Homo sapiens: one gene and its partners. The protein of the gene in region 7 interacts with the protein of the main gene of each other region in a biochemical or structural test. Each region holds a gene or a part of one and is shown on either strand. Other genes may lie near its edges. The genes, in order: DLG2, GOPC, GRIP2, ARHGEF11, PALS2, DOCK4 and SHROOM3.

Region 1 (3,500 bases), on a different chromosome or scaffold from region 7:
TGATTATTCACCAGTCAGAACATTTCAAGTTAACAACATGAACAAAGAGGAAAATAGGTGCAATTATCCAGGACAGTTTGACTAGAACCAGTATTCATTTAGTTGATAGAACTGAACTTTTGAGAGGGAGGAAAATAGATGCAACTTCTTAGTGTATTCTTAGATAGACATCAAAATTACTTAATTCTTTAGCGGTACATTGAGAAAGGTCATGGCAAATCAAATCAACCCAACAAATATCTTCTCCTATGATACTGGTTCTCTGTGTTCACAGGAAATAGGATCCCTCTGTAGGCAGATTGTGTAGCCACACCCAGGTGCCTTCCTATGGTACCCTCTCTTGAACATTCTTCTCTTTTCCATGCCCCTGAAGTTACCAGCAAAAAGATAATAGCAGCATCTACACCTCCTCTAAGCTAGAACTTCTGCGAGCAAAAGGCTGGGCAGCCCTTCTCATCTATCTTCTCTTCTACCATGAGGATGTCAAGTTTTCAGAGAGAGAGAAAAAAAATAACTTCCTCTAACAAAATAATTCAGGAATGCTATCCCCTTGGTTTACAACTAAAGTAGTAAACCTGCCTTAATAAAATCAAGGTTGTGTATTGGGGCCTCAGATAGTGAGTCAAAGACAAAGCCCTCTTCCTACTTTTTCCAAGTCAGTGAGAATACTTTATTGAAATTAGAACAAAGATTAATGACATTGCTCTAAGGTGATTCTCTGCTTGGATGTTTTAAATTATTAAATCAAAATTTACAATTGCAATCAAGAAAGAGTAATGACCAAAAAAAAAAAAAAATGCAGTTTGCAACCTAGAAACCTTCTTCAGGGGAGGTGTAAGAAGATTGGTGAACATACTCTTTCTGCTACAAATCTCACAGACTGCACACTGGTTCCATATAAATTGTCATTGTACTGGCCGGCTTCTATAAACTTGTGCTCTTGGATATCTTTCTCCATTTGTTCTCTGGAAATGACAAAGTGATAGTCTCTGCCATCCACCTCGTAGTCTCGCTTTGGCCTCGTAGTATCTTTATAAAACAAAAAATGATAAAATTAAGGTGCATTTATACCCATAAACTTGCTTTACACCTATATTCTCCACCACATCCTCAACATTGATATGTAGAAATATGTAGTATGAAGAAATATGACATAGTAACAGGTACTAGTCTTACCCTCCCACCATAAGCAACTAAAAAACTGGACAAAATATATGAAACAACTGTTTTCAGATATCAGACAACAGGAAGTACAGGGCTGTAATCTTTGAGAAAAGAGAAACATATGAGAGAGCATTCACCCCACCTCTCTACCTAGAGGCCATTTCCAAATGGAGAGTTTAGACATCACATGGTGCTAGAAGACACGGGAGTTGAGTCAGAACCCATGGAGATCCCAGAAAGGCCACATTTTAAAAGGTTACTCTAGACTTACTCTACACCCATCTTCACAAAGTCTAAAACCATGTCACAAATGGAAGAAGCTGCTGTGTCAGTAAATTATCACCTGTCAGAACAAAAACTTAACATTCTATAAAGGACCATAAAATTCAGACTCTCAACATATATAAAATAAGATAATCACAGTTAGATAGGACTAAAAATCAGCAACTCTAACCATTTCACCTAAATTTTTTGGTAAGAAGAGAAGGGGAAAGCAATCTAGCAATATGAATAAAAGCTGTTAAAATATTTTTAATCTTTGACTCACTTATTTTTTCCTAGAAATATGTTTTTAAAAATGATCAAAACTTCAGATACAGATTTATCCTTAAAGATATTCATTATATTATTTTATAAGTAATAATTATAACACAATTACGATGATATTTTTGTCACAATTCATAATAGTGAAAAATAGGGAAAAACCAAAATGTTCATAAAGAATGATTAATTGGGATATAATAATCATTTGAAATAGTTATATAAAATTTTAAATAAGCAAAAAAATCATCACAGAGAAAAAATGCATGCATAGAAAGAATAGATGGAAATGTACAAAAATATTAACAATGATGTTATCTCTGGGTATTGTGTGGGATTTTGTATACTTCTAATTTTCTCGTTTAACTTTCTTTTTAGTGTTTTTGAAGTTTTGTACAATGAACATCTATTGACTATCACAAAATGGTTCTATTAATTCAAAAAAGAGAGAATATGCAAGGTGAAAGGGAAAGCAGAAAGAATGCTTAAGTACCTTCTGTTTTCTTTCTCTCAAAAGTGGAGGAGCAAGCTGGAAGCTTGCTGTAAACGACCTGGAGTTTCATTTGCTCCTTCCTGTCTGAAGACTTTCTCAGGATATGTTCTATGGCAGGATCTCTTCCCAGAGCCCTTGCTGGGAATTGTTTCATGAGATACAGCAATCATCCTAGTCTTTTGGCCATGTACTGGACACATACAATTCCTGCTATTCTTAAGTATCTCATGTAAAATTTGCAGTACTGGAATGTTAGAGACACTTGAAAGCATCAGGCTTAAAACACATAGAATGGAAGAGAAATATTTGTTGGTATCAGATGTAAGAGCTCCATTATCTAATAAATTAAAATTTCCTGATGGACCTGTCTACATACGTAGAAGGTCTGCATGCATTTCTGTTTGACAGAGTCGGGGTGTAGACGGGGTGAATGAGTGGAGAAAGTATGGTAGGGGTGGGGAGGGGAAGAGGCAGAGCAGTTAGAATCTAATAAGGCTACAATCAGAGGGACCAGAAGCCTGATGATAATCTATAATGAGAAGAAAGTAGTTTAAAGTCTGTAATGGCCTAGAGGTCAAATTGAAGTGTTACACATTTTCTTGTCTTCACCCTCCCTAAACCTGGGACTGTCAACATGGGAAAGCCTATTGGGTTTTGGGATTGACATATGGCCCTAAGTCATCCTGAGAGGATTTTAATATATGGCTTTGTTTCCGATCTCTTCCATCCTATAAAAAATAATGTTTCAGTGGCATTTTGATCAATCTATGAAAACATACTGATGCCTATCATAAATCCTATGCTGTTTTAAATGGTTGGGGGCCACAAAAATTCATCCTGCCTTTTAAGGGGCTACAATCAGTTTAGAGAAAACATTATTATTTTTATTAAATACAGAATGACACACGGCAGCATAAATGAAAAGTGTTAGGCAAATAAATTAAATAAGGCACTCAGCTAATCGGAAATGGTTGGTATTTGAATTACTGGAGAGACTACTGGAGGATGGAATTACATTTTACCATCTCATAAAGAAATCCAAGCTCTTTTTGTTTTTCCTAGAGGAAAGAAAAATGACACTTACGAGGCACACAGGAGCCAAATTTATCAGGGAATTCAGATATCAAGTCGTCATTGATCCGATCCTTCATGGGCCCCAGGATAATCACCGGCCGGGTGTAGTTTACTGCAGAATGGGAAAGGAAGATGTAGGTAAAGAGAAAGAGTTGGAAACAACTGCAAAACTGTCCTGCAAGGGTGATTCTTAATTGCCAGACAGTAAGAGATGCTAAGGGCATTACTT
Region 2 (3,500 bases), on a different chromosome or scaffold from region 7:
ATAAATAAATAAGTGTTGACTATATCACCTATTTAGGTGATATATATATCTATAAAGTATAGACGTGTGAAACAATAACCAATAGATACATTTTTTTAAGTGAGTCAGTTAAAAGATATATACACACAAATTTTTAGTTGAGTCACATTTTAAGTGTCTGCAATTTGCATATGTGACAGAGAAGACTTCTAGCCTCAGTTACAAAAAAAAGGAAGAGACAGGCTTTCTAATCCCGACAGAAAACAGCAAGTGTGAAATACAATGAAACCATATGGAGAGCAGCCCAACAATTAAGGTTTTGACATACTGCCACAATAGTTTTGCTCAAGATGCACAGTGAAAACAGTAACTGCTACTGCTATCTTTGTGCAGACAGTTTACAACACACAAGTTTATCAAAAGTGCAACAGTTTATCAGTTCACCATAAAACTCCATGCCAGGAGTTCAACATTTTGGTCTCAGGAGGCCTTTATACTAAGCATTGAGGACTCCAAGAAGCTTCTGTTTATGTGGATTATAGCTACTGATGTTTCCCATATTAGTAGGTAAAATTGAAAAATCTAAAAAAAAATTCATTTCTTTGTTAAAAATGACAATAAATCCAGAAGGTTAATATAAATAACATTTGTCTAATGACAAATAACTCTATGTTCCAAACAAAAAAATTCTAGTTAGAAGAGTAGCATTATTTTACAATTTTACAAATCTCTTCAATGGCTTTGTAGATGATAGCTGTATTTTCATATATCTGCTTCCATTCAATCTATTACAAGTATATGAAGAAAGTTCAGCCTCACACAGATATGTAGTTGCTAAATGGAAGAGTATTTTAACAGCCTTTTCAGATAACTGTCAGTATTGTTCTCTGATATTATACAAAAATTTGACAATGTGGAATTTGAAACCTTATCAGTGAACTTTTCACACTCTGTTATATTAAAATCCATTTGCCTATCTTGCATTTTGAATGGATCTTTTCCCATGCAAAATTTTATAACTTCATTTACTGGTGATTTGAAAAATATTGGACCATGAAGTTATGTAGCAATTCCAAAAGTTGACACATTTCACTTTACTGTATCAAAAAATCACATTCATTAATATCATCATCAATCTCATCAGAAAAGCTTAAGTGTTAGGAAGCTGTCAAGCTCATGGTGATCAACGTATGTTTTACAAAGTTCTAACTTTCACTTGAGAGCTCACATTTTATCACTGGCAATAAATATTATCAGTTGTCTTTCCTGAAGTGATGGACTTTGTTCATTTTTAAGAAAATGGCTTCCAAATAGTCCGAAAATCCATACTTTGTTAGTCATTCATTCAAGTAAAAATTGTCTTCCATGAAGAAAAATGGCTAGTTCAGTCACTTATGTACTTTCCCTTGAAACCAGCATCTTTGTTCAGTGTGCAGAGTAAGTGCTTTATGCATACTTCCCATCTCATCACAAAGAATATTAAAAAGACAGGTACTCAAAGGTCAATATTTAAAAATTAACTGTTACTGCCATTTCATCAAAGATATTTTTAAGCAAAATTGGTATCTTCTTCTTTTACTATGAATGGATGGCAAGGAAGAAAACAATGATTACTAGTACAGTTACTAGTATTAGCAACACTGCCTTGATTAGTGCTAAGGCACCAGCAGTTTTACCCCAATTGCTTTTGCATCAACCAGATACCATCAGTGCAAATATCAACATAGCAAAAAAAGACAAATGATGTCTTAGTATTATTATGAAAAGCTTTGACCTCATGAACTCTGCTAAAATATCTCAGAGACCCTCAGAGATCCACAGATCACAATTTGAGGACCACTGCTCTATGTAAAAGGAAGTGCTAGAGTTTTTCCTTAAAATATGTCTAAATGATAGCAAAGGAACTAAACCAAACATCCCCAAGATAATATAAGTTGATTCTAATAGCAATCATAAGGTGACAGTATACTTCATACTTATTCATAATTAGCTTAAAATTCATTGTGAGAGATGAATTTGCATCAAGACAGACAGACAATGTAGTCTACAAGATAGATCTACTCAAAATAGTATATTGGTCTTTGTTTCAGAGTCTAGAAAAAATTTTATTTATTTTTCAAGGATCACTTGCAGTAGAGTAACTGGTAATGTACTTGTCTTAACAGTCCAAGATGAATATAGAAGAACATATATGGTAAATAAACTGTTAGCATAGTATACAATAAAACAATAAACAAGGGAAAGCTCTTCATTCCTTTGATTTCCTCACAAAACAGTTTTACTGAAGAAATTCTGAGGCCTTCACATTTTAAACATTTAATAATAATGAATATGTTAATAATAATTTTTAGAGTGATTTTTACCTTGTAATACTTTGATTTCCCCACTTGTGTCTTTGCAACTAGCACCAGGGTTACCACCTCCTTCTAACTCATCAAGGTACAAACGGTAACGATGTCCACTCTCATCTTCATACTCTACGTTTTCATCATCAGAATCCACTTCAGGAGCCACATAAACTACTTCAAATTCAATCTCTCCTCTCTAAAACAGGAAATGAAAATGAGAAAGTCAAGTTATTGTAATTGTAATTTAAAAAGGATTTCCAAATTCTTTGTGGGAAGGCTTAGGGGTAGAGAGATCTAAGAGATAGCTGATTTCCAGAAAATAAATAATAAAATTCTAGAATCTAAAGAGGTAGTGAGGCCATCATGTCTGATCAGCCTCGTGAATCCTCTCTACAGTTCCTTTAAACATTATAGTAGCTCTTTCTACTGACCATAGTCTTTTTGCTAATAGATCTAAAATTTAAGAGGATGCTTAATTATTAAATTTATAGAATTTTGGAACAAGTATTCAGTTTTAAAGTTATTTGCTACTTTGTACTGCACACAGCAATTCAGCAAATACATCTAAATAGTCAGATATTAAATAAGGATATCATACAAACCTTTCCTTAACTAATTCAAGAAACCCCTAGAAAATGATTTTTGTACACTGCCATAAGGACATCATATAAATCTTTTCTTAACTAATTCAAGAAACTCCTACAAAATGATTTTTTGTTTCTTATTCAATAGGTCTTGAGTAAGAACTTACACTGAGTACCAGACACAGACATAGTGTTAATCAAGGTATTCTGTCTCGTACTAATAGTAATTACTATATTTATATATTTACTATAAATTATAGCCTTCAATCCCCAGAATAATCCTATTATAGTCTCTTTTACATGAACGAGAAAGCTGAGTGAGTCCTGCAGAAAGCAGATAACTTTCCCTACATAATGAACAAGAATAAAGAAAAACAAAAGTTTGACTCTGAAGTCCTTAATCTTTATATTATGCTAGACTAACTGTGTAATATTTGTACTGTCATTCTTTAACAATGAAACATTCAAGTAAAAAGTTACAGATCATGCCAGGCACAGTGGCTTACACCTGTAATCCCAGCACTTTGGGAGGCTGAGGCAGGTGGATCGCTTGAGCTCAGGAATTCTAGACCAGCCTGGGCAACATGGC
Region 3 (3,500 bases), on a different chromosome or scaffold from region 7:
CAGGGTGCGTGTGTAAGTTCCAACAGGCGGATGGGGAAGGCCTCCCTGAGGAGGTGACATTTCTACAAGTTCCCGAAGGAGCTGAGACGGGAGTTTTGATGATGTCTGGGGAAGAGTTTTGTGGGCAGAGGGAACAGCCGATGCAAAGGCCCTAGGGGGATGTGAGTCTGGTGGGCCTTGGGTCGAAAGGACAGATGTGTCCAGGAAGGCTTCACCTCCCTTTAGAGTGCAGTTGCCAAGGTGGGGTGGGCCCATAGGGTCAAATCTCCGCTTTGTCACTTCTGGCTGTGTAACCAGGAACAAGTCACTTAGCATCTCCATGCCTCAGTTTTCCCAGCTGTAAAATGGGGAGAATAACAGTGCCCAAGTGGCAGTGTGGTTATGAGGATTAAGTGAGAAAATGCAGTGTGCTGGAGTGGAGCTGGCCAGGGCGAGCATCAGGAGGTGAAGTCAGGGGACCGGGGACTGACAGTTGTGGTGAGGACTTCTGCTTCTACTCTCCCTGAGCTAGACACAGTCTTCTTGTGACTGCAGGCAGCCGCCATTGGGAAACTGAATGGTTCTGTGGGTGACCCTGATTTTGAGGTCACGTTCCTTGACATTGCTGGTTTTAGAGTAGGGCAGGAGAGCAGGACCCAGAACGCAGAAGGCCAACCCCCAACTTGAGACTGCGCCCCCGCTCTCCCATGGTGGGATGTTGGCCTGCGTGTGGCTCAGGCCTGCTGGACAGGAGCCCCTCTCCCTGTGTGGAGGAGGATTGTGGGGGTGGCGGCCTCTCCAGGTGATGCCATGGGTCCTGCTAGCCCTGATGCACCCAGCCTGTGAGTGCCTGAGCCCTAACTTAGGTATTCTTGGGATACTGGAGCTGTCACCTTCCCAGTGCCCTGATGCTTCTCATTTGGGGTCTGTTGCCCTCCTGTTTGGAGGGAAAGAGCAGAGCCAAGGGTTCAGGGCATGGTCTGTTGTGAGGTCAGGGAGCCCTGGGTTCCAGGTGCCTCTGCAGCTCACCAGCTCAGTGGCTTCTCTGGGCCTCAGGCTCCCTATCTGTAAACTGGGGACAATCGGTGAGCCTCCCTCCATGGTTCTTAGGACAATTAACTGACTTAGCATTCATAAAGTGCTTAGAGCAGGCCTGGCCCAGGGAAGGGCCCAACACTGGGTGCTACTTATTAAGGTTCTTTATTTTTTTCTTTGCAATCCTTGGCAACAAATGAATGAGGCTTCAAATTTTTAAATGTATTGATGCATTTCTTTTTGTCTCCCTGAAAAACGTGCTTCTGCCGAGCTTATCTGATCTTTCTATGCTGCTCTCCCCATGGAAGCTGGGCTTCCTGGGAGGCTTGTCGCCCGTGGGGATTGGAACTGTCATTCAGAGGTCAGCCTGTAACTGGCTTTGAGGCATCTCCATCGAGCCCTTGGCCTGTTCCAGCCCTCAGTGGCCAGGGAGGAACGCCCAAAGGAGCTGGGGCTCTGCCTGGAGCCGAACAGCCCCGGGGCTGCAGGCATTACAGCAACTTCCAGGCTTGCATGGATGGGGGAGTAGGCAGGAAGGTACCCAGAGGGTAGGGCCAGACCCCTTAGGGAGCCAGAAGGCCTGGGCTTCAATCCTGGCTCTGCCACTTAGAAGCTCTGTGCCCCTGGGCAGTTCCCTTGACCTCTCTGTGCCTCATTAGGCCTGGGTTCAAACCCTGGCCCTGCCCTTTATCATGGGATATCACTTAACCTCTCTGTGCCTCAGTTTCCTCATCTGTAAAATGAGAATCATGATTATACCGCCTCAAAAGTGGTGAGGATTAAATGAGATCGTGCTTAGGAAGCACAGAAACCAGCACTTAATCACTAGGAGCCATCATCATGATTGATCTAGGAAAACCTTTCAACAAGGTGAGGGAAGCAGGCAGGGAGGGAACTGCCATGTTTTATGGTTTCTGTGCACACTTCCCCACAGTTCCTCCCAGCAACCCATGAGGTGGGCACCAGTACCCCCATTTTGCAGAGGAGAAGTCTGAGGCTCAGAGAGAAGTGACTTGTCCCAGATCCCTTAGCCAGTTGGCAGCCGATTTAGAATCAAAGTCCCAAGTTGGACTGACTCCAAAGCCTATCCCTCCCTTCCCACCATATCAACAATCCCTTCCATGGTGGGGCGAAGCTGGCTGGGGCTGGACCGTCACTTGGTGGAGTACTTAGCGCCCATGTCCTCTTCAGCACCCAGGGTCCCGGTGAGCTGGCATGGTCCTGGCCGACAGCTCACCGTCCCTGCAAATCATGTCCTGTTCGCCCCAAGTGGAGCCTCTGGGCATTTGTTTTCTCAGTGGTCCCTTTTGAGATGCTGAGTCCTCCCTCCAGGAGGCTCACAGAACAGGGCAGCAGTCAAAGCCGGCTGACTTTATAGTCCCACCCACTCCCCCACGCTTCTTTCCAGCCACCCGCTTAGGCAGGACCCTGGCGAAGGCAGCCTGGCAAGGAGTTGACTTCCTTTTCCCTTTGTCAAAGCTCAATAGCCCCCTGAGGCCCCAGAGAGCGGGAGATAATGAAGGCAAATTAGCCATGATTTCAAGAGAAATAAAATAAAAAAGAAGGCCACCCACCCCGGCTGCAGCGTGGGCCTGAGTACCAGGTGCACAGGTCTGAGCTCCAAGCACGTTTCTCCCTCTGTCCCTCCTCCCCTGACTTGCACACCCCACATTCGCCGGGACTGGCTGGCACCACTGCGGAAATGAATTTTCCTCTGAAGCGAGTTCCTACAGGACGATTGACTGAAGGCAAAAGCTCATAATTGCCCGTTGCTGGAAGGAGGAGACAGGGAAAAAAAAAAACATGGATAAAAATATCTCTGTTTTTTATGCACGTTTCCAGCTGAAAATTGGTGGGAAAGATGTTTTTGAAAAGCCTTCATCTCTAAGCATATAATTACCAGGTCCTGGAACAAAAAAGAGAGAGTGGGAGAGAGCAAGCATGTTCTCTGAGGAGGGGGCCTAGGGTCTGACCCCCCCAAGGGGTTTTCTATAAATAAAGTAATCCCCTCAACTTCTCAAGCTCTGGCCAGCTGGAGTCAGCCATGGGAGAGACACCCCCATTTTACAGAGGGGAAAATGGAGGCTCGAGTCACACAGCCAATTGTAATTCTAACCCTATTTTGATTCTTGGTTTGGATGCTGCCTCAGTTCCCCCCCATCTGAGGATGTTCGTGAAAGAGAGGCCCTATGTCCCCTCTGAATAGGCATCAGCAAACACTGCAGCATTCCTTCCGGGCACCTTTCTGACTATGCCAGGGGGTCTTGGGTGCTCAGAAGCCTCTCATCTGGCAACTCGCCTATCAAGAATGGCTTCTTGACTTCCACAAGAGGCCACCAAGGGCACACCCTGAGATGCCTAGGGAAGTCTCTCGAGGCCTCGCCTGCTGCCCACTGACTCTTTGCGCACAGTAGTATGACTTGTTTTGCAGCACGCAGTCAAGTCTCTGACAGCTGGGAAAAGAGATGGCTCACAGGCTGAACCCC
Region 4 (3,500 bases), on a different chromosome or scaffold from region 7:
TGGGTGGCTATGTGGGAATATATATATATACAGGAATATATATATATAGGAATATATATACAGGAATATATATATAGGAATATATATATGGAATATATATATGTATATATTTAGGAATATATATAGGAATATATATAGGAATATATATAGGAATATATATATATGAATCTATATATAGGAATATATATATATGAATCTATATATAGGAATATATATATATGAATCTATATATAGGAATATATATATATGAATCTATATATAGGAATATATATATGAATCTATATATAGGAATATATATATGAATCTATATAGGAATATATATATGAATCTATATGAATATATATATGAAAATACATATATGAATATATATGAATATATATATGAAAATATATATATGAATATATGAATACATATATGAATATATATATGAATACATATATGAATACATATATGAATATATATACATATATATATATGGCTGATTAATCAGGATCCATCAAATACATGCTAATCTCCTCAAACCATGACCCAACTTCCTAAGGGATCTCCCAGAACTGACTACTCACTTTTTTTTGTTTGTTTTTTGTTTGTTTTTTTGAGGCAGAGTCTTGCTCTGTCACCCAGGCTGGAGTGCAGGGGTGCGATCTCAGCTCCCTGCAACCTCTGTCTCCCGGGTTCAAGTGATTCTCCTGCTTCAGCCTCCCAAGTAGCTGGGACTACAGGCGTGCACCAACACATCAGGCTAATTTTTGTATCTTTAGTAGAGACGGGGTTTCACCATGTTGGCCAGGCTGGTCTCAAACGCCTCACCTCAGGTAATCCACCCACCTCGGCCTCCCAAAGTGCTGGGATTACAGGCGTGAGCCACCACGCCCAGCCTCCTGCTTCTCTTAAAAAGCTGTATTGAAGAGCTCTAAAACTATTTGGTAGAAATGGCCTAACCTAAGGGTCTAAGGAAGGTTAAGTATCCACTGTATTCAGTAAATTGCTAGGTATCAATGGCAGACAAAATGACTTCTACTGAAGATCCTAGTCTATCAATAGCACTACCCTTCTCCTAGTCCACCAGTCTCATAAATTTGGGAATAAAATTTGATTCAGGGCAGTGCACGGTGGCTTACACCTGTAATCCCAGCACTGTGGGAGGTGGAGGCGGGCGGATCACCTGAGATCAGGAGTTTGAGACTAGCCAGGCCAACATGGTGAAACCCCGTCTCTACTAAAAAATATAAAAACTTAGCCAGGCATGGGATCAGGCACCTGTAATCCCAGCTACTCAGGAGGCTGAGGCATGAGAATTGCTTGAACCTGGGAGGCAGGGGTTGCAGTGAGCCAAGATCGTGCCATGGCACTGTAGCCTGCGTAACAAGAGCAAAACTCTGTCTCAAAATAAATAAATAAATAAATAAATTTGATTCAGTCTTAAAATACTGGTTAATTCTGCTACCAAAACGTCTTGGGAATCCTGCCACTCCTCTTTGTCCCCACCATAACCGTTCTGATTCAGAAGCTCGTTATCTTTTCCTAAGATTGCTACAAAAACTCCTAGGCTTCCTAACCCCAAGCTCTCTTCTGCTCTATATATTAATATCAGAATTCTCTCTTTAAACACTATGTTTATCACCATATAATACATAAACCTTCCCCGGCTCCCTTTCTACTACCACATAAAGTCTGAATCCCTTCATTCTCCCTACCCTACCCATCTTATCAATCTAATTTCTCTCTGCTCTACAATAATCTTAACACTTGGAGACCACACCATGTTGGTGCCACCCCAGACAGAACCTTGCTCGTGTTGCTCCTCTAGTCTGAAATGGCCTCTTCTCTTTCTTCGACCTGAATAATTCCTAACTACTCTGCCTTTGACTATTCTTATTAGCACCAACCTTGCACTCTTCTCTAAATGTACCTTTTGGTGTACATAACGATTCAGCAATTATGTACCATCTTTTTATTTTGTGTTGCTTTGTTAATAACATTTCCCAACAAGCATTTAGGCTTGAGGCCATGCACGGTGGCTCATGCCTGTAATCCCAGCACTTTGGGAGGCTGAAGTGGGCGGTTTACTTGAGGTCAGGAGTTCGAGACCAGTCTGGCCAACATGGTGAAACCCCCGTCTCTACTAAAAATACAAAAAGTATACCGGGTGTGGTGGCAGGTGTCTGTAATCCCAACTACTTGGGAGGCTGAGGCAGAGAATCGCTTGAACCCAGGAGGTGGAGGTTGCAGTGAGCCGAGATCACGCCACTGCACTCCAGCCTGGGTGACAGAGCAAGACTGTCTCAAAAAAAAAAAAAAAAAAAAAAAAAAGAATGTAAGCTCTATGTTCTCCTGTACTATCTCTCAGAACACTGAGAACTGCACTGAGCCATCTGATAAATATTTCAAGTCCAACCAACCGTCAAGCGCCACAGATCACAGGTCATCACCAGGAGGGCTGCTAGATTGGTTCCCTACATGATTTGAGGCCAGGCTGTGACTGATGACTACAGATCCCATCACACCACTTTGTAGTGGCTGCTCCCAAATACTGGAAAGGAGCAGGGTCTGGAAAGCAAGACTCTGAAATTACTTCACTCTAACTTTTCAAAGCCCCTTTCTCACATATTCATGTCTTAGTTTGCTATTCTTTAAAATGAGGAGGAAAATCTTAAGGAAGTCAACAATGGTAATAGAGGGATACTAGTGACTTTAAGGCCTACGCTGAAATCACAATAGAAAGACAATAAAATGGTTTTAAATTGTGGCAGAGGAAGTTTCGTATCCAAAGGGATTTCTAATTGTTGAACTAATGGAACCATCCTCCAGAGATCACTGAAAATGGGAGAGGCCTTCAACCTGTCTTTACTAGGTTAAGAGACACCCTATTTGGAGTCCAGAGTAAAGGGCAAGAGGATCCCTTGAAGTCCTGCCAGATTTTTGTGATTTTTTCCTGAAATCTGTCCAATTGTTTTAGTACAATAAATTGGGGTATTCTTCCAGACCTTAAGAACACCTTCCAGGCCTGGCGTGGTGGCTTGCACCCATAATCCTGGGACTTTGGGAGGCCGAGGTGGGCAGATTGCTTGAGTTCAGGAGTTTGAGACCACTCTGGGCAACATGGTGAACCTCATATCTACAAAAATTAGCCAGGTGTGGTGGCACATGCCTGTAATGCCAGCTACTCAGGAGGCTGAAGTGGGAGGACCACCTGAGCCTGGGGAGGTCAAGGCTGCAGTGAGCCATGATCATGCCACTGCACTCCAGCCTGGGCGACAGAGTGAGACCCTGTCCCAAAAAACAAAAAACAAAACCACCTTCCAAATCCTATTCCAATTCTATTAGGGGCCATGGATTTCTCAGTTCCTCCCCATGTTTCCATGTCCCTGTACTTCCATCTTCTCTCCCATTTGATCAGGCAGCTTTGTTCTCTGTTCTTTTCAAGCTTTCATTTTCACTGATTTTCAGGAAAGCCAGACAATGATTTCTGAAAAACCATTTGGCCCACTGAAAGGACA
Region 5 (3,500 bases), on a different chromosome or scaffold from region 7:
AAGACATAGAAAACTTTTATAAGAACAAAATGAACTTCAAACTCATGCTCAAAAATAAGGGTCAAATGAGATCATTATGTATAATAGGACTCCTGTTTTCCCCTTGTTTTCTGGCTCAACCTTGAGAGTGGTCGTCTTAGACTACTGTGAAGAGTATTTATAAAGTATCTTTGAGAATCTTCAAGATGCTATGATGGCTTTTCATATTTAAAACTGTGTGATCTTTAAGGTTTCTGGAATTAGTCACCAAAGGTGTGTATAATAAAACTTCTCAATAAATGTAATCCAGCATATAAACAGAACCAAAGACAAAAACCACATGATTATCTCAATAGATGCAGAAAAGGCCTTTGACAAAATTCAACAGCCCTTCATGCTAAAAACTCTCAATAAATTAGGTATTGATGGGACGTATCTCAAAATAATAAGAGCTATCTATGACAAACCCACAGCCAATATCATACTGAATGGGCAAAAACTGGAAGCATTCCCTTTGAAAACTGGCACAAGACAGGGATGCCCTCTCTCACCACTCCTATTCAACATAGTGTTGGAAGTTCTGGCCAGGGCAATTAGGCAAGAGAAGGAAATAAAGGGTATTCAATTAGGAAAAGAGGAAGTCAAATTGTCCCTGTTTGCAGATGACGTGATTGTATATCTAGAAAACCCCATTGTCTCAGCCCAAAATCTCCTTAAGCTGATAAGCAACTTCAGCAAAGTCTCAGGATACAAAATCAATGCATAAAAATCACAAGCATTCTTATACACCAACAACAGACAGAGAGCCAAATCATGAGTGAACTCCCATTCACAATTGCTTCAAAGGAATAAAATACCTAGGAATCCAACTTACAAGGGATGTGAAGGACCTCTTCAAGGAGAACTACAAACCACTGCTCAACGAAATAAAAGAGGATACAAACAAATGCAAGAACATTCCATGCTCATGGGTAGGAAGAATCAATATCGTGAAAATGGCCATACTGCCCAAGGTAATTTACAGACTCAATGCCATCCCCATCAAGCTACCAATGCCTTTCTTCACAGAATTCGAAAAAACTACTTTAAAGTTCATATGGAACCAAAAGAGAGCCTGCATCACCAAGTCAATCCTAAGCCAAAAGAACAAAGCTGGAGGCATCACACTACCTGACTTCAAACTATACTACAAGGCTACAGTAACCAAAACAGCATGGGACTGGTACCAAAACAGAGATACAGATCAATGGAACAGAACAGAGCCCTCAGAAATAACGCCGCGTATCTACAACTATCTGATCTTTGACAAACCTGAGAAAAACAAGCAATGGGGAAAGGATTCCCTATTTAATAAATGGTGCTGGGACCACTGGCTAGCCATACATAGAAAGCTGAAACTGGATCCCTTCCTTACACCTTATACAAAAATCAATTCAAGATGGATTAAAGACTTAAACGTTAGACCTAAAACCATAAAAACCCTAGAAGAAAACCTAGGCGTTACCATTCAGGACACAGGCATGGGCAAGCACTTCATGTCTAAAACACCAAAAGCAATGGCAACAAAAGACAAAATTGACAAATGGGATCTAATTAAACTAAAGAGCTTCTGCACAGGAAAAGAAACTACCATCAGAGTGAACAGGCAACCTACAAAATGGGAGAAAATTTTCCCAACCTACTCATCTGACAAAGGGCTAATATCCAGAATCTACAATGAACTCAAACAAATTTACAAGAAAAAAACAAACAACCCCATCAAAAAGTGGGCGAAGGACATGGACAGACACTTATGCAGCCAAAAAACACATGAAAAAATGCTCACCATCACTGGCCATCAGAGAAATGCAAATCAAAACCACAATGAGATACCATCTCACACCAGTTAGAATGGCAATCATTAAAAAGTCAGGAAACAACAGGTGCTGGAGAGGATGTGGAGAAATAGGAACACTTTTACACTGTTGGTGGGACTGTAAACTAGTTCAACCATTCTGGAAGTCAGTGTGGCGATTCCTCAAGGATCTAGAACTAGAAATACCATTTGACCCAGCCATCCCATTACTGGGTATATACCCAAAGGACTATAAATCATGCTACTATAAAGACACATGCACACGTATGTTTATTGCGGCATTATTCATAATAGCAAAGACTTGGAACCAATCCAAATGTCCAACAATGATAGACTGGATTAAGAAAATGTGGCACATATACACCATGGAATACTATGCAGCCATAAAAAATGATGAGTTCATGTCCTTTGTAGGGACATGGATGAAATTGGAAATCATCATTCTCAGTAAACTATCGCAAGAACAAAAAACCAAACACCGCATATTCTCACTCATAGGTGGGAACTGAACAATGAGAACACATGGACACAGGAAGGGGAACATCACACTCTGGGGACTGTTGTGGGGTGGGGGGAGGGGGGAGGGATAGCACTGGGAGATATACCTAATGCTAGATGACGAGTTAATGGGTGCAGCACACCACCATGGCACATGTATACATATGTAACTAACCTGCACATTGTGCACATGTACCCTAAAACTTAAAAGTATAATAATAAGAGGGGAAAAAAAAAAACCTTAAAAAAATAAAAAAATAAAAAAACTTCTAAGGCAACTTGTAACTCCCCAAATAAATGCATAATAGGACTTGGTTCAACATTGTGAACATTAATTTTAAAAATTAATGTTTTTTCGGTGAAGTCCTACAGTGAAACCATATAGGGGAATGCGCTGCTTGAAATAAATATGTATATGCACATGTATTACCTCTACCTCCATGCTGAGGGAATCTTAATTCTTAGAGAAATGTTCTTTAGTTTACAAGTGAATTTTAACTACAATCCTATTCTCTACTAACACTTCAAAAAACAATCTACGTTGCCACATATTTAAACTGCTTTCCATTTCTAGAACAGAGAAATTAGAACATGAAGGTTTGACTACAACTGATTCCTTAGACTTCTATACTGCGCAACTACATAATGTGATTTTTTAGAAGTAATTTTTTATGATAGGCAAAATTCTCAATTTTAGCTGCTCTTCAAATAATGAAGACACAATCAACAAAGTAATACTTCATTTGTTAACTAAGCTCAAGATGTCAAGATGTCAATGTTAAATTGAAAACAGGATGCATAACATAGCCCATCTCCCTAAAATAACAATGTTTTTCTATTTTATCTTAGGATCATTTTGTAATATATAAAGAAAGTTAAATCACCTTAATTTTATAACAGAAAATTTTAGAAATTCAAAAATATATGGAAAATAAGCAATATACTCCCAAATAACCAATGGATCAAACAAGCAATCACAAGTGAAAGAAAATACTTTGAGAGGAGATGGTGCTGTTGAAGAGCACAGTTACAGACAGAGCTGACCAGGCTCTTCCAGAGTGCCAGTTGTCCAGCAGCATGTTCATTACCCTGAAGATGTATGATGGTTGAACTAAACCCATTCATTCTAAGAAAAGGTTCTGTGGAGGGCTTTAAGCCCTTGATAATT
Region 6 (3,500 bases), on a different chromosome or scaffold from region 7:
TGTTTTCCAGCCCTACTTAAATGGGCCCTAGTCCTCATTCTCCACTGCTGCCACTTGGTAGCCAGCATAGCCACCTCCTTCCTCCCCACACTCCTCACATTGAGCAGGGTCCTGATGGCCCCTGCAACTGCCTCACTTTAAAGGAAGGGAAAGAGAACACAAAGGAGGAGTGAGAGCTGGGATGGGGGTGGAGTGGGAAGTGAGGAGTGAATGGCAGGGGAAATGCACGAGGGATTATGAAAGAGAAGATGCCAGGGAGGGGAGGCCTCCTGAAGTGAGATGCAGGAAGTAGGAAGTAGGTAGGAGGGAAGCAGCAAACTGGGGAGAACAATAGAGCTTTGCCTTTGTCGCCCTGAGTCTCACTCTGTGGAAATATCTGATATGCCAAATATAACCAATCAGTTTTAAAAGGTTTCAGTCATACCCCAGGATGTCTGAATTACATCTGAATAGTCAACATTTTCAGGGTTTTTGGTTATGAAAACATCATAAATCTCTTTTTCAAAGTCAGTATTTTTAAAATCACTTTATTTTTCTCATTCTAATTCCTCCTCCTCCTCTTACCCGTGTTTGTTGCAGATAAACATTCCTGTTTGGTACTGAATTCCTTACTATTAATAGTAAATCCTTTGTGAGGTTTTTCTCTTGAATCTGGCTTTGGTGGAGCTTGCTTCTCTTTCTCCTTGAGATTCTTAATGCTTTTTCTCACTGGTGTTCTCTATATTCTCTTTTTCTTTCTCATCTTACCTACTTCCTTGGTTTGGGGGGTTTGGAGTTTTTGTTCCCTCATCATCTTTCTGTTTCTCAGAAAGTCCCTTTTGGGTTTCTGCTAAAACAAGTGATTTGAAGTAAATTTCCTGCTTCCCTGCCTGGAAATTCTGTCCTGGCTCCTCTCTCGGCCAGTCTAGTCTGGCAACTCCACTGAGCCCTGAGGCCAGTTCTACCAGGTCCCGCTGCCCTGCGCGTGCTCGGCACACGCGAGCCTTCAGTTCTCACTGCATTCATTGGCCTCCAGATGCCACCTCTCCCTGCATGCGTTGGAGACTAATAATGCATGGAGACCATCTCCCACAGCCTTTGTAACTTCTGCCCAAGAAAGATAAATTTATTCCCTCCCCAGGTGAAGAGGTTCTCTAAGGACCTGCTGGACCAAAGCCCTCATGTCTGTTTAGGAAAGGGTTAAAGAGCTGGGCCCTGTGCTTATCTGGACTCTGGGATGAAAGATGGCCTGTGGAGTCCAGGAGCTGCTCTTCTCAGGTTGAGAGCTCCCTGGATGATCTAAGAAATCACTGGGCCTGTTACCATTCTTTTAGTCTGCAAGATTTGGGTCACATTGCCAAGAAGACCTTTGTTCCTGGGTGGAGTTGGTTGCTAGGCAGAGTGCTATGTGCTGGGCACCCAAACGGGAATAAAGCAGGTTCCCAGCCCTCAAGAAACTCTCATCTTTCCAGGAGGAGGCAGAAAAATTAATCAACAAATATTTGTCACCTGCCTGATTTGTAAGGATTTGTAAGTGCTACTGTGATGTGGAAGCATGTAGAAGGGACAGTTAGCTCGAGATTTCAGGAAAGGCTTCCAAAATGAAGCAACATCCGATCTGAGGACTAAAGGATGGGTAGGAGTTTGTAAGTCAAGAGCAGTGGAGAGGAAACAGAATACAGTGAAATAAATGCCATCCTAGAGAGGGCTAGTCATAGTTTGTGGGAGCCTGCAACTTGAGTGGCTAGGAGAGGGGAGCCACATGTGTTAAGAATTTTACTTTTACTAGCAGAACGCTTTCATGTGAGGACCTGTTCTCTATTAAGGCAATTAATCTTCCTTTTCTATTTTGAAAGGTGATATGCTTGATCTTTTGAAATGGAGAACCCACCCAGACAAGATCACTGGCTGTCTCTCTAAATTAAAAGAAATTGATGGCTCAGAGATAGTAAAGGTATATAGTATTTCATTACTATTTTCCTTGCAGAGATTCATAGAATAAAGAACATTTGGAGGAAAAAGACAGATAGTATCTTATTTACTCATTTGCTACTTCTTTATCTAACAGTTTCTGCAGGATACACTGGATACCTTATTTGGAATTTTAGATGAAAATTCCCAAAAATATGGGTCTAAAGTGTTTGATTCTTTGGTAAGTTCAAATTCCCTTAATTGTATTTTAACTGTTTTGTCTCTCAATCTTGACTTTCATGAGGCTGGTTCAGAAACATGTGCTTAATAATGTAAGAGTTCATTTTAAAAAGAAGCAAAAAAAAAAGGAAAACCTTGATTTGCATTTAGTTTTATAAAGCTCAATTTTCTTTTTTTAGGTTCACATAATAAATTTGCTGCAAGATAGCAAATTTCATCATTTTAAACCTGTAATGGACACTTACATTGAGAGTCATTTTGCTGGGGCACTTGCATACAGGTAAGGCCCTGTATCTTGTAATTAGTTTAGAAGTGGTTCCTTTCAAGCTTTTCTCAGCAGAAGAGGCGATATAGGAAAATTTAAAAGGGAGTGTAGGAAGAAATGGAGCACTACTGAAGTGTCTCTTGAGATAGTCTCTTCCCTGCTAACACACCCTTTTTAAATGGGTAGAACTTATTTTGATTAAAAAGGGAAAAAAACCTCCTGAATTCTATTCCTGAGCCCTAAAATATAAAGTCTTTCCTTCTTGTCTCTGTTTCACTGGATATTCTTTGGTCTAAAATGTCTGGTTATCTCACTTCGGCTGTTAAGAGTCCCACTTCATCACTGTACTCCCTGATGATTATAAATGTTCATAAGAAAGAAATATGAATGGAAAACAACCTTTTCCTTCACACCTGCTGAAAGTCATCCATTCATTTATGTTAGGATTTACTGAGTGCCAGCTGCTTGCCAGGCACTGTACTTTATGCTGATGATGTGAAGACCTGGTCCCTGGCCTCAGGCAATTTAGTCATTGGGATCTACTCTTTGATAGGAGCTGCTATTTTAACTGCTCCTCCTTTTCTACTGGCTCAGGTGGTGCTGAAAAGTTATGAATAATATTATGCTTTGGCTAGTGCCTGCCTCCTCTCAACATAGTTGATAATTGCCAGAGGCCACAGCTTCTCTCTTTTAGTTCGACAAATAACTGCTTAAATAGCCTTGGAGTGTACCCCATCGTCTGTCTCCCAGTCCAATATGGTCCTTGCTGTTCTCCCATATTTCTACCTTATACCTTAAGCACCTGTGGGCATGCACATGCCTGACTGTTCCCTGAGGTGAGTTTAAAAAGCATGAAATCAGGTTGATATCCTTCCCCCATCTATGTAATATATAAAGGTTAATAGGTTATCAGATAAGCATTTGATCCTGTTTACTTGGATATTCCCAGCCATGACAGGTTAAGATCGACGTCTCCAACATCGAAATGAATGAAGGTATTTTTGTTAGACTTGACACTTCATCAGTGTGATTTTTTGCTGAGAGTGAAATGCAACCGCAGGAATAGTTTTGAAACATCGGCCCACTCAGCCTAACAATTTGGGCC
Region 7 (3,500 bases):
TTTTTGTTTTTGAGATAGAGTTTCGCTCTTGTTGCCCAGGCTGGAGTGCAATGGCACGATCTCGGCTCACTGCAACCTCTGCCTCCTGGGTTCAAGCGATTCTCCTGCCTCAGCCTCCCAAGTAGCTGGGATTACAGGCATGCGCCACCACACCCAGTTAATTTTGTATTTTTAGTAGAGACGGGGTTTCTCTATGTTGGTGAGGCTGGTCTCAAGCTCCCAACCTCGAGTGATGTACCTACCTCGGCCTCCCAAAATTCCGAGATTACAGGCGTGAGCCACCCCACTCGGCTTCCCAGTGGCTTTTTATTATACAGGTATATAAAGGTCCTATAAAGGTAGTTGTTTGCATTTGGCGTCCTGCCAATAAATTGTACTCGTTAAGGCCAGATGGGTTTTACTCATGCTGTATATATTTCTTCTCTTAGCAAAATCTTTCTCATTTACACATAGCAAATGCTTAATAAATGTTAAATGACTTACAGGATTGTACAGCTATAGGAAAATTAGCAATCATGTAATAACTTTCTTCGTACACAGAGAGAAAACTGAGATGCAAAAAAAGTTGCCAAGATGGTTTCAGTCTTAGCAAATTGAGAGTATGTGTGTATCTGTGTGTATGTAAAGCCCCAGCTAGTAAGGAAGTAATTGCTTTCTCTGATTGTGCCCTTTATAGTTTTTTTTTTTTTTTTTTTTTTGGAGACAGAGTCTTGCTCTGTCGCCCAGGCTGGAGTGCAGTGGTGCGATCTCGGGTCACTGTAAGCTCCACCTCCCGGGTTCACGCCATTCTCCTGCCTCAGCCTCCTGAGTAGCAGGGACTATAGGCGTCCGCCACCACGCACGGCTAATTTTTTGTATTTTTAGTAGAGATAGGGTTTCACCGTGTTAGCCAGGATGGTCTCGATCTCCTTACCTTATGATCCGCCCACCTCGGCCTCCCAAAGTGCTGGGATTACAGGCGTGAGTCACCGTGCCCGGCCCCACCCTTTATACTTTTCTATGAATCCTAGCTCCCCTGTTAGACTGTTACCTTCCAGAAGCTAAAGACCCTTCATTGATTCCTTTTCTCTCTCTCTCTCCCCTTCCCTTCTTTCCTTCCTCCTTTTCTTTTTATTATTCGTGGTGCTTAAACTATACGTAACAATTATGAAAATGAAAATGTGAATGAATAAAGAGGAAGATAAGTATTAGAGAGGATATTCTTAAAAATCTTTGTTAGAAGCTACCTAGGCCAGTGTGCACACAGGTTACTAGAAAAACCTGTTTAAAAACTAAGGCAAGCAGGTTAAGTTGGGCTCAGTCTGACCATGTCTTTCATATGCACATATGTAATGTTTGGTAAATGTCTGTTGAATTGAATTAGATTGAGAAAAAAGGGAAACTCATGTTTTTCTTTAACTTTTAAACCTTTAAAAATTAACTATTATTTTAGTTAAAGTCTTACGCATTTTTTAGTACAAATTAATTTTGATATTTCCTATCAATGTTGTTGGAAATAACTTTTATTCAAGTAGCATGCTGACATGCTGTACCAAATGGGTCTTAGCATCAGTAAGAACTCTGCTTTCTTTCACAGCTAATAGATTCCCAAGGCTTTGCCTTCTATGCAGGGGACACAATTTATTTTAAGAAATATTCATCTCATTTTAGTGAGCCCACAGTGTGATTGGAGAGGCATAATGAGAGACTTTCTATCAATTTTTGAAAAAACAAAACCTCAAAGGACATGCTGGATCTTAACTAATCCATAGACAGACTCTTCCACATCTCTCCCTTTGATGTAGTTCCAAACAGTGAACATCTTATCCAAAGGGCTGCAGTGCAGAGTCCTTGTTCTCCCACTTGGTTCATCCCAGGAGTCCATCCATCTCTTGTGCTCTGACATCCCAGGCACTTCTCAATGAAACAAAATGAGGCAAAGATTCTCTACTAAATCTAAGCACTGTTTCTCCCCCTCTTCTAATGACTTTCTCCACAAAGGCTACATGGGTACGCTGTGGATCTTGGTTTGTAGAATGGAAGTGATTCTTTTCTGCCTTCAGAGGAAGCTTTCCTGATTTGGCAGACCGATGTACAGAACACTCTGTCCTGGGCATCTGAACCTGAATTTGCACTTATGTCAACTACATTTTTTCATTCCTCAATATCTATTTGTTTTCTTCTCCATTTTCAGCAGTATTTTTTTCTTGGAGATTTATGAGATTATTTATTTATTTTGAGACAAGACTTCATTCTGTCACCTAGGCTAGAGTGCAGTGGCATGATCACAGCTCATTGCAGCCTTGACCTCCCTGGGGTGAGCTTCTTACCTCAGCCTCCCAAGTAGCTGGGATTAAAGGTGGACACCACCACACCCGGCTAATTTTTGTAGAGGTGGGGTTTTGCTATGTTTCCCAGGCTGGTCTCAAACTCCTCAGCTCAAGTGATCTGCCCACCTCAACCTCCCTAAGTGCTGAGATTGCAGGAGTGATCCACCACGCCTGGCCTAAACCTTTATTTTTGAATGCTCTTTGGTGCATGTATATTAATTTATATTTGTAATTTCTATGTTATATATATGTATATATGTATATATATATTTTCATTTTAAGTGAGGTTTTCCAGCATAGAAAAAAGCTTACATCCCAGACAATATAGGGCTCTGAGTGGGAATAAACAAGTTTTATTTCTACCCTAGCTTTTACTGGCTATGTGACCATGGCAAGTAACAGCCTTCTTGAACCTCAGTTTCCAGTTTCCTCATCTCTCTTTCTTTCTTTTTTTTTTTTTTTTTTTTTTTTTTTGAGACGGAGTCTTGCTCTGTCGCCCAGGCTGGAGTGCAGTGACACGATGATCTTGGCTCACTGCAACCTCCACCTCCCGGGTTCAAGCGATTCTCCTGCCTTAGCCTCCCAAGTAGCTGGGACTACAGGCATGGGCCCCATGCCTGGCTAATTTTTGTATTTTTAGTAGAGATGGGGTTTCACCATATTGGTCAGGCTGGTCTTGAACTCCTGACTTCGTGATCCGCCTGCTTCGGCCTCCCAAAGTACTGGGATTACAGGCATGAGCCACCACGCCTGGCCAGTTTTCTCATCTTTCAAAGGCACCAGGCATGGTGGCTCACACCTGTAATCCTAGCACTTTGGGAGGATGAGTCAGGTGGATCATTTGAGTCCAGGAGTTCAAAACCAGCTTGGGCAACATGGCAAAACCCTGTCTCTACAAAAAATACAAAAATTTGCCAGGCATGGTGGTGCATGCCTGTGGTCCCAGCTACTCAGGAGGCTGAGGTGGGAGGATCGCTTGAGCCCAGGAGGTGGAGATTACAGTGAGCCAAGATTGTGCTACTGCACTGTAGCCAGGTGACAGAGCCAGACATTGTCTCAAAAAAAAAAAAAAAAGGAACATTCTTACCTAATGAAGTTGTTATAAGTATCCAACATAGTATAAGCTATGCAATAGTGCTTTGTAGGTATCCAGCATAGGTAGGCAACTCATATGCCAAAGATGATACTTGG

What was found.
Region 1: the proteins of SHROOM3 (region 7) and DLG2 interact in a test that uses a peptide from one of them, tested with the Homo sapiens proteins (one large-scale study listed by IntAct).
Region 2: the proteins of SHROOM3 (region 7) and GOPC interact in a test that uses a peptide from one of them, tested with the Homo sapiens proteins (one large-scale study listed by IntAct).
Region 3: the proteins of SHROOM3 (region 7) and GRIP2 interact in a test that uses a peptide from one of them, tested with the Homo sapiens proteins (one large-scale study listed by IntAct).
Region 4: the proteins of SHROOM3 (region 7) and ARHGEF11 interact in a test that uses a peptide from one of them, tested with the Homo sapiens proteins (one large-scale study listed by IntAct).
Region 5: the proteins of SHROOM3 (region 7) and PALS2 interact in a test that uses a peptide from one of them, tested with the Homo sapiens proteins (one large-scale study listed by IntAct).
Region 6: the proteins of SHROOM3 (region 7) and DOCK4 interact in a test that uses a peptide from one of them, tested with the Homo sapiens proteins (one large-scale study listed by IntAct).

Annotation. Positions count from the first base shown.
Region 1 is NC_000011.10:83,468,345-83,471,844, forward strand, and holds part of DLG2 (disks large homolog 2), read right to left. Parts: intron 3,384-3,500; coding exon 3,282-3,383; intron 1,030-3,281; coding exon 857-1,029; intron 1-856. UniProt on the Homo sapiens protein: Required for perception of chronic pain through NMDA receptor signaling. Regulates surface expression of NMDA receptors in dorsal horn neurons of the spinal cord.
Region 2 is NC_000006.12:117,564,512-117,568,011, forward strand, and holds part of GOPC (Golgi-associated PDZ and coiled-coil motif-containing protein), read right to left. Parts: intron 2,524-3,500; coding exon 2,343-2,523; intron 1-2,342.
Region 3 is NC_000003.12:14,533,843-14,537,342, reverse strand, and holds part of GRIP2 (glutamate receptor-interacting protein 2), read left to right. Parts: intron 1-3,500.
Region 4 is NC_000001.11:157,035,743-157,039,242, forward strand, and holds part of ARHGEF11 (rho guanine nucleotide exchange factor 11), read right to left. Parts: intron 1-3,500. UniProt on the Homo sapiens protein: May play a role in the regulation of RhoA GTPase by guanine nucleotide-binding alpha-12 (GNA12) and alpha-13 (GNA13). Acts as guanine nucleotide exchange factor (GEF) for RhoA GTPase and may act as GTPase-activating protein (GAP) for GNA12 and GNA13.
Region 5 is NC_000007.14:24,674,452-24,677,951, reverse strand, and holds part of PALS2 (protein PALS2), read right to left. Parts: intron 1-3,500.
Region 6 is NC_000007.14:111,870,900-111,874,399, reverse strand, and holds part of DOCK4 (dedicator of cytokinesis protein 4), read left to right. Parts: intron 1-1,835; coding exon 1,836-1,933; intron 1,934-2,047; coding exon 2,048-2,131; intron 2,132-2,309; coding exon 2,310-2,410; intron 2,411-3,500. UniProt on the Homo sapiens protein: Functions as a guanine nucleotide exchange factor (GEF) that promotes the exchange of GDP to GTP, converting inactive GDP-bound small GTPases into their active GTP-bound form. Involved in regulation of adherens junction between cells.
Region 7 is NC_000004.12:76,441,729-76,445,228, forward strand, and holds part of SHROOM3 (protein Shroom3), read left to right. Parts: intron 1-3,500. UniProt on the Homo sapiens protein: Controls cell shape changes in the neuroepithelium during neural tube closure. Induces apical constriction in epithelial cells by promoting the apical accumulation of F-actin and myosin II, and probably by bundling stress fibers.